Homo sapiens: one gene and its partners. The protein of the gene in region 3 interacts with the protein of the main gene of each other region in a pairwise test. Each region holds a gene or a part of one and is shown on either strand. Other genes may lie near its edges. The genes, in order: TAL2, PHF14 and PCBD2.

Evidence for each region.
Region 1: the proteins of PCBD2 (region 3) and TAL2 interact in a two-hybrid assay, tested with the Homo sapiens proteins (one large-scale study listed by BioGRID and IntAct).
Region 2: the proteins of PCBD2 (region 3) and PHF14 interact in a two-hybrid assay, tested with the Homo sapiens proteins (one large-scale study listed by BioGRID and IntAct).

What each region holds. Positions count from the first base shown.
Region 1 is NC_000009.12:105,660,887-105,663,705, forward strand, and holds TAL2 (T-cell acute lymphocytic leukemia protein 2), read left to right. Parts: upstream 1-1,570; 5' UTR 1,571-1,610; coding exon 1,611-1,937; 3' UTR 1,938-2,238; downstream 2,239-2,819.
Region 2 is NC_000007.14:11,032,786-11,036,444, forward strand, and holds part of PHF14 (PHD finger protein 14), read left to right. Parts: intron 1-2,854; coding exon 2,855-3,001; intron 3,002-3,632; coding exon 3,633-3,659. UniProt on the Homo sapiens protein: Histone-binding protein. Binds preferentially to unmodified histone H3 but can also bind to a lesser extent to histone H3 trimethylated at 'Lys-9' (H3K9me3) as well as to histone H3 monomethylated at 'Lys-27' (H3K27ac) and trimethylated at 'Lys-27' (H3K27me3).
Region 3 is NC_000005.10:134,957,032-134,960,197, reverse strand, and holds part of PCBD2 (pterin-4-alpha-carbinolamine dehydratase 2), read right to left. Parts: intron 1,159-3,166; coding exon 1,078-1,158; intron 1-1,077.

The DNA of each region.
Region 1 (2,819 bases), on a different chromosome or scaffold from region 3:
AACAGCCAAACCGGGGTTCTGGCCTTGGAGCCTGTGCTCTTGACCACCATGCATATGGTTCCACTGATGGCTGAGTTACGTGAAGACTCCTGTAGAGTCAGGGCTTGGAAAGGGAAGATCTCACCTGCTGTTTAAAGAAATAGGTAAGTAGAGAGTGGGGAGGAAATTCAAGGAACAGAAAATGACAATGTGCGAAAGTGTAGAGTTGGGAATATTCATGAGTCTTCGGAGGAACTAGAAAGGGCCCAGTGCCCAGAGGAGCTGAGCGTGGAGCAGGCAGCAGACCAATAGCAGTAAGCCAAGAACATCAAACTGCCTGGGGCTAGACTTGGGCTTGTTTGCCAGTGCCTCCCAAGTGTTCCTATTAGCACATGTTAATCCAAGCCACTTGAAAAAAGGGACTCTTGCCTCTAAGAGTGAAAAATGCCTGCATAATGCTCGGCAGTATGTGATGATAAACCACTCTCCTAGACTTGGAAAGGTCATCCAATGCAGCCCCAAAGAGGCCCAAGTATCTTCTACAGAATCCACGCCAAATCACCACTCCCACCTGCCCCTTGTCTTTTCATTTTTGCGAGACTAAATACCCCCACTTCTGTTCTTCATACACCAGGGTTTCAAGACCCTTCATCATTCTGTTCCTGCTCCTCTAAATATAGTCCAGTCTGGATATTTTAGTTCTTACAGAGAGGGGCTGAATCCTCCAGGTGAGGTCTGCCAGCTAACAAGAGAGCTGTATTGTCTTCTCTATTCCAAATTTTATTTTATTAACGAAACCTACAATCATTTTCTTTTTTTACTTCATTCTGATAATACATTGTTGATTCATATTCAACTCTCTGTTGGTGGCCGGGCATCGTGACTCACGCTTGCAATCCCAGCACTTTGGGAGGCCGAGGCGGGTGGATCACCTGAGATCAGGAGTTTAAGACCAGGCTGGCCAACATGGTGAAACCCCATCTCTACTAAAAATATAAAAACTAGCCAGGCGTGGTGGCAGGCGCCTATAGTCCCAGCTACTCCGGAGACTGAGGCAGGAGAATCGCTCAAACCCGGGAGCTGGAGGTTGCAGTGAGCTGAGATGGTGCCATGGCACTCCAGTCTGGGTGACAGAGTGAGACTCCATCTCAAAAAAAGAAAAAAACAAAAAACAAAAAACAAACTTTCTATTGGCCAAACATATGTTGCATTTATACATAAACTCAATCAATATTGTACCTGATTCTGAACAATTAGGAAGAGTTGGTTATAAAGGAAGAAACAGGAGTATTGGGACAAAGCAATCTTTCAACTGGAGGCTTCAAAACAGCCAGAGAGAAAAAGCTGAAGGGTGTTGTTCTTACCTTCCCCTGTTGTTTTTAAGTTAAAAAAAGAAATTATGCATAATTCATAGCGTCACTGATGCCTCGAAAGGTGAGAGGCATATGTTTGTGTCCCTGTGGGGTTGTTTTCTTTTTTAAAAACCTGAAAATGAGGAAATGAATCTCGTAAGCTCTGAGTCGAGAAAATCTAACATCTCAGGTTCTTGGCAGGACATGTGATACCAATCAGGCCTCTTATAAGATATTGGCCCTGAGGGCCCTTTCTCTTTCCATCTCAGGAACTCAAACATGACCAGGAAGATCTTCACAAATACCAGGGAGCGGTGGAGGCAGCAGAATGTCAACAGCGCCTTTGCCAAGCTGAGGAAGCTCATCCCCACTCACCCTCCAGACAAAAAGCTGAGCAAAAATGAAACGCTTCGCCTGGCAATGAGGTATATCAACTTCTTGGTCAAGGTCTTGGGGGAGCAAAGCCTGCAACAAACGGGAGTGGCTGCTCAGGGGAACATTCTGGGGCTCTTCCCTCAAGGACCCCACCTGCCAGGCCTGGAGGACAGAACTCTGCTTGAGAACTACCAGGTTCCTTCACCTGGTCCAAGCCACCACATTCCTTAGTGTGGCTCTGGCTGTCATCTCCCAGGGCAGCACTTGCCCAGAAATCACTGCCTGTGGACAGACTTTTGCATGTTCCAGAGTTGACCTGATGATAACTCGTGAAGCATGAATTCTAGCTTCCTGGGAGGTGGCTCAGAGACAGCTGCAGGGAGCTGAAAGAAGCCATGAGGAATGTCACTTGTGGGCCGCCACCCCCCAGGGATGTCAGGTAGAGCGGCCTACCTCTGCCTATTTTAAATCCAGGTTCTGCATAAGACTTTTGGAGAAAAAATTCTAAATAAAAAAAAAAAAAGGCTGAAAATCACTGTTTATACTCAATGTCTTCAGTTATAAGAAAGAAGTTTTCTCATAATGGATCTCAGATGAATAAGTAGAATATGCTTCCTTCAGAACATATTTTAAAGTTTGTTTTGAAAAATGAGATTTGATCAAGGGTGAACAAAATAAATCTTAAGATTGATGGGCCGGGCACGGTGGCTCACGCCTGTAATCCCAGCACTTTGGGAGGCTGAGATGGGCAGATCACCTGAGGTCAGGAGTTTGAGACCAGCCTGGCCAACATGGTGAAACTCCGTCTCTACTACAAATACAAAAATGAGCCAGGTGTGGTAGTGCGCACCTGTAATCCCAGATACTCAGGAGGCTGAGGCACGAGAATCGCTTGAACCCGGGAGGGGGAGGTTGCAGTGACCCAAGATCATGCCACTGCACTCCAGCCTGGGCAACGGAGCAAGACTCGCTCTCAAAAACAACAATAACAAAAAAAGTTTTCTCATAATGGATCTCAGATGAATGAGTAGCAGCATATGCTTCCCTCAGAACAGATTTTAAAGATGGTTTTGAAAAATGAGATGCATTTGATCAAAGGTGAACAAAATAAAT
Region 2 (3,659 bases), on a different chromosome or scaffold from region 3:
CATTTGTATTTAAGGCCCTTGCCTCAGCTCTGCTAAGTCAGAATTTGCAGAGTTGGGCTCTAGTTACCTCTATTTAGAAATCTCCTTAAATGAATCTGATGACAGTCAGGTAATGGTTAAGGAAGATGGATCTTACATACTGGACATAGGTCTTGGTTCAGCAACTTAACCTCTCTGGCTTTCAGTTTTCTATCCATAAAATTGATATTAAAATGGTAGAACCCACCTCATGTGGTAGTGGTGAAGGTTAAAGAGATAGTATATACAAAAGCGCATGTGCTTATTTCATGGTAGATATTCAGAAACATGTTTTTCCCTTTCTGTCTTCCACTGGGAGTAGGATCTTGAAAGCTCCATTTCTCCAAGCAGGTTGAAGGGATATTCCATGTCAACCAATGCATTAATTAGGACATTATTTTGACTGGTTTAACAAAACCAAGTAACGAGTTGCTTAAACGAAGAAGTTGAATTCACTCTAATATACAATTCCAGGCGGATTGGATACTGAGGGGAGTTTGGTTCCAGGGATCAGTTCCCTTCTTTCTTCTTGCTTCACCTTCCTTTAGTCTATTGCACTCTCCTACACAGTCAAAGATGGTTTATCACCATCTTGACTGGATTCTTCCTCATTGGAAGTAGCAAAGAGGAGGTTAAGAGTAGGCAGCTTCCTTTCAAGGGCATGGTCTGGGCATTTCATACAACTTATTGGCCAGAACTTAATCACATGGCCACATCTAGCTGTGGGGAGGCTGGATCAGATAGTTTCTAGCAGGGTAGCCATATGCCCAGTAAAAACTCATAGGGGTCTAGTACTAATGGGAAGAATGGATATTGTAAGACAATTAGTAGTTTCTGCCATAGTAAGTATTGGTGTTTTTCTTAAGTCAGAGTCTTGGTCCAAATGCTTAACTCACCTATGCAAGCATGAATCCTATCTCTAATGACTCAATTTCAACCTCATTTACTTTGAAACATTAGAATAATTATCTAGATCTGGGTATTTGGGCTGAGGTTCGGTATAATCTTTATTTCCATTTAACATCTCTGTCACCAAGATTTAGAGCATGTCATGAGAAAGCAGCTGTTTGTATGTGTTAATGTAGTCTCCTAATTAATTTTTGTATTTAATTTTTAAAGCTATATGAAGTAATTGTAAGTAAACCCTGTTTTACTAATGTGGTAACTGAGGCCCAGAGATGTTAAGCAATTTTTTGAAGTCCCATAGCCTGTAAATGATAGAGCCAAGATTTGTATCCGGGTTTTTATGTCTTCAAATTCTGTGATACACATTGCTGTACTGTGACATCTATAGATATCACACTACAGAATTGCCTCATATGCTTTTTTTTTAATATTAAGGACACATTAGATTTTTTTTTCTTTCTGTTCTTATATGTCTCTCCTCGGTAGTGTTGTCATTTCTCTTTGGGTTGTAAAACTCTACTTAGAGACACTTTTGACATAACTTAGAGAAAAACTAATAGCTTATGTTTACTGTTCCTTTTTGGGACAGACATAAAGAATGAACAGCCTGTTGTTTTGTTAGCAATTACATTGTAAATTACTTTTTTGTACTACATCTTTACAAGTTGTTTTTGATAGAATAAATATTCTTTTTTGTACACTACTTTTTATGAATGAAAATGTACTGTTAGGCTATGAGAGAGCTGTAATTCCACTTGAGTTTTTAGGGAAAGAGTTAAGGGCATAACTTAAATTTTTTTATTGACAGGGCTTAGAATTTCTTAATTCTATTTTTTTTTTTTTTTTTTTTTTTTTTTGAGACAGACTGTCGCTCTGTCACCCAGGCTGGAGTGCAGTGGCGCGATCTCGGTTAATTACAACATCTCCCTCCTGTATTCAAGCAATTCTCCTACCTCAGCCTCCTGAGTAGCTGGGATTACAGGCACATGCCACTGTGCCTGGCTAATTTTTGTACTTTTAGTAGAGACAGGCTTTTGCCGTGTTGGCCAGGCTAGTCTCGAACTCCCAACCTCAAGTGATCTGCTTGCCTCGGTCTCCCAAAGTGCTGGGATTACAGGCATGTGCCACCACGCCTGGCCCTTAATTCTATTTTTATCCTCAGTAGAATCTGTCCATTGTTAGCCAGTTAGAAATGCCACACTTATCTTGTTGGCTAGTTGAATGTTGTTGTTTTGCAATATTAGTTTATGCATAACTTTAATATTTAATGATTATTTCTACTTAAGATTATTAAAATCCTATTTGTTTTAAACAGTGACTTTTTAAAAAAATACAGCCGGCCCTCCGTGTCTGTGGATTACACATTCTTAGATTCAACCAACTGCAGATCGAAAATGTTTGAAAAAAAAAAAGCGTAATAAAAAAGAATACAAATATAAAACCAATACAGTGTAACAACTATTTGCACATTTACATTTGTGTATTAGGTATTATAAGTAATGTAGAGACTGCTTAAAATATGTGGGAGAATGCATGTAAACTAGATGCAAATACCACACCATTTAACATAAGACGCTTGAGCATCCACAGATTTTGGTATCCTTGGGGGGTCCTGGAACCAGTCCCCCATGGATATTGAAGGGCTACTATACAAGTACACCCAAATAATACATTATATTTGATTTCAATATCTTTAAACCTGCAGGCCCTTTAAAGAAAAACGTTGTTGGTAATTTGAAGTTGACATACAAGATCAAGTTTCTAAAGAAGTAATTTTTGTCATTATGTACAAAAATTATTTTTGTAATTTATTAGATGTAACTAGCACTAGTAGATTCTTTGAAAAGGAAGTAATATTCTTTTGTGTTAGGTCTTTTATGACTCTTGGGAGTACAAATGTTCACTATTTTTCTGTGCTTTCTTTGTATAGGATATAGCAGATCCATTCTTTGCTTATTGTAAGCAACATGCAGATAGGTTAGACAGAAAGTGGAAGAGAAAAAACTACTTGGCTCTACAGTCCTATTGTAAAATGTCTTTGCAAGAGAGAGAGAAGCAACTATCACCAGAAGCACAGGTATGGGATTCATGTCAAAACCCGTATGTTTTTGTTTTAAGGTTATGTAAGGATTTTACGTCTCGTGTGGCTTCCAGTGACATGTGACGTATAATAGGAAGTTTGGTTAGTTACCTAGGAAATGGATTGTGATTAAGGTAAATAGTGAGTATAATTTTTGGCTGAATACAGTACTCCTCATTTAGTCAAACAGAGCAGTCCTTTATAAAGTAAATTTTCACATTGAAAAATGTGACTGTGAGGAAATTACTCTATCAGTGCAATATATTTATTACATCTTGTTTCAGTTTGTTCAAAGGATTTAGTCAGTTTGCCTATATTTAAAATATAATTTTATATACATTAAACCTATGGAGACAATAGCAGTTATTAAGAAGAGAAACTTCAGCTTAATTAGTTTCTCAAAACTCTGATTATAAGTTAGGACAGTTGTTACTAGGGGCAGATATAGTTTATTGTAACTCAAAAATTATACAGTATACCTTAAGGATCATTCATACCTATAATTTGCTTTGGTGTGAGAAGTTCTGATTATCTTTCTGTGAACATGGGAATAAAAATCAATGTAAAAATCTTAAGGAACATGTTTCATTTTATTATCTTTTAAAATTTGAATACATTTCTTTTATAGGCAAGGATCAATGCCCGGCTTCAGCAG
Region 3 (3,166 bases):
AGCAGCAACGTTTAAAAAGCACATTTTGGCTGGGCATGGTGGCTCACACCTGTAATCTCAGCACTTTGGGAGGCCGGATCACCTGAGTTCAGGAGTTTGAGACCACCCTGGCCAACATGGTGAAACCCCGTATCTACTAAAAATATAAAAGTTACCCTGCACGCCTGTGATCCCAGCTACTCGGGAGGCTGAGGCAGCAGAATCGCTTGAACCCGGGAGGTGGAGGCTGCAGTGAGCTGAGATCGCAGCACTGCACTCCAGCCTGGGCAACAGAGCCAGACTCCAACTCAAAAAAAAAAAAAAAAAAAAAAAAAGCACATTTCTAAATTAGGGAAATGGGAGTAAAGGATGGAATGCTGTTTCTTGATGAACTGATTATAAAGTAAAAGCAAAATTACGAGCAAAGAGAAGCAAATAGCAAAGAAAAGTTTAGCCTGGTACCAAGGTGCTCTGAGTTATTCTATTAAGTCACGTGAGTATTGTGAAATTCTCTTTTTTCAAAGATTTTCACAGAGAAGACTTCATAGAAATCTAGATGATAAGACATTTCAAATGGCATGACCATAAAGGCAAGGACACTTTGGGAGGAACAAGGTTCTTCTCACTGTGTTCCCTCAAAACTTTTTAGTCTGTCCTTTGTCTTAAATAAGGTCATTTCCTACGCAGGATACAAAATTTAATAGTTTTCAAAGCACAGTTCTTGAGTAAAAATATTTCAACGAGATAAATGAGGCCATATCTATCTGATTTGCTACCATTTCTTTCAATAATTTACCTTAAGTTTTGAAACGTATCTGCATGGCTGATACTCCGGTTTAATTCAGGAGCCTCATTTGGCCCAACTTTCTCATATTAGCTTCAGTAGAAAGACAAGCATGAAAATAAAGAGCTTATTCACTGTTCTTAGGAGCAGACCTGAAAATGTGTTACTAATTTGCAATAATACACAGGGATTCTGAGAGAAAGGATAAGACTTTCTTAAGTACAATGACATTTAGCTGCACAAGATGACAAGGAAGAAAGAAGTTTCTTAAACTCCATAATTAAGGTGATTCCCAAATAAGGCAGTTTAGTTACCTTGTTGTATACATTGAACCATTCTGGGTGATGATTCATCTTCTCTGCTTGTAGGGCAACTCGGGACATAAAGCCAAATGCCTGCATAAGATGAAGTCAAGAGTAATTACTGACATTGTCCTCTACCCTAAGCCTGAGAGACACAACAGAGCAATCCAACCACATAAAGGCAGGCAAGGATCCTTAGGGAAGCCTGTGGAAATCAACTATGAAAGGACTGCTCTCTGCAGGCCTCTGGGGTCACAGTGCAGCAGGACTGTGACCTACTGCTGGATGGTGAAAAACTATCAGGCTCGAGTAAACAAACCAGGAAATTGGTCTCACCTAGTGACCCGTCTGGACTATTTAATTGTCCTCAGGACAAGACTCTACAAAATAGCACGGGAATAATTTCCCTTCAACCCAGTGCTCTGGGTCTCACTACCTGGCTCCAAATATTAGGAGCCACTTTTCTTGCAGCTCTGTTCCTTTTGTTTTTAGTGATTGGGTTGCTAACTAAGGCAACCCACAAGACTATGGAAAAAGGTCTCCTGAGGGTGTCTTAAGCAAAAGCACCAGCAGAAATGAACAACTTCTTCATCTCACCTCCCAGGCAGGACAGGAACAAATCAAAGACTATTGGCACCTAGAGTGAAACAGAAGCCCAGCTTGCCTGCTTGGGTTCTTCCTGCTACTGCCCTGCACTGCCATTTCAAGGTGACAGTGCACCCACCTCAGGGCAGAAGGCAAGCCAGGAAATGAGCAGAGGGCTGCAAACCAGTCACACGACTAAGTGTGGACTGACGGGGCTCTGTCTTTATACCACACGGGGAGTGGAAACAATTTTGTTAAGCAGAAGGTAAACTTGTCTTCAGAAGAAGGAAAAAACTCATTTTTTTGTTTGTTTTCAATTTTTTATGAAGGTAACTGCAAACAATAGGAGAGTCTGTCTCTATTGTTCCAGAATGCACAAATACTTGGTAAGACTCTTAGGGTAATGGCACATGAATTACAAAGTTAGAGTGGCATTCACAGGGCAATACCCATTACACCCACGTAAACAAATATTTAACTTCATTACCCCTATCCAGAAAAACCAATATGATGTTAGTCAAGCCATGTTTTTGGGATCACCAAATGACCTAAGTGTGTATTTCCTAGTTAACAGTGAGAAATACAGAAGATGCCATTTTAAACAATTCTATATCATTCACTATGGTACCTCTCTCGGAGCCAATTTTATTTGGGATAAAAGTTTCCATGTTGACATTTGAGGCCTGAAGGTTTTCCCTATAGGAAAAGGGAGAAAGTTCAAGCAAAATCCATTTGACCATGTATGGAATTATCTGTGGAAAAACAATATTCACTTTCCCAGCCCTTCTCATCTCATAATCTGATTGTCTAGATTATGTGAAGGGAAGGGACAAAAGCCTGTTTTTTATTTTTATAGAGACAGGGTCTCACTATGTTGCCCAGGCTGGTGGAATGCAGGGGCTGTTCACAGGCACAATCATAGATCACTGTAGCCTCAACCTCCTGAGCTCAAGGGATCACTCAAGGGATCCTCCTGCCTCAGCCTCCCAAGGAGCTGGGACTACAGGTGCATGCCACCATGCCCAGCCATGAAAGTCTGTTCTAATTATTCAAACATAGAGTTAACCCACATTAAACTACGTATAAGGAGAATTTCTACTCTGCCTATAATGCCTTATTCTTGTTTAGCATTAGAAGATGTACAATGCTAATCAACATCACTGATAGACAGCAATGCAATTGTTAAGGGCATGGCCTTTTGAGCCAGGGAGTCCTGGATTCAAATCCTGATTCTATCACTTAATTATCATGCAATTTAACTATCAGTCTCAGTTTTCTTTTTTCTTTTTGAGACAGAGTCTCACTCTGCTGCCCAGGCTGGAGTGCAGTGGGATTATCTTGGCTCACGGCAGCCTTTGCATCCCGGATTGAAGCGATTCTCCTCAGCATCCTGAGCAGCTGGGATTACAGGCACCTGCCACCACGCCTGGCTAATTTTTGTAGTTTTAGCAGAGACAGGGTTTCACTATCTTGGCCAGGCTGGTCTTGAACTCCTGACCTCATGATCCACCTGTCT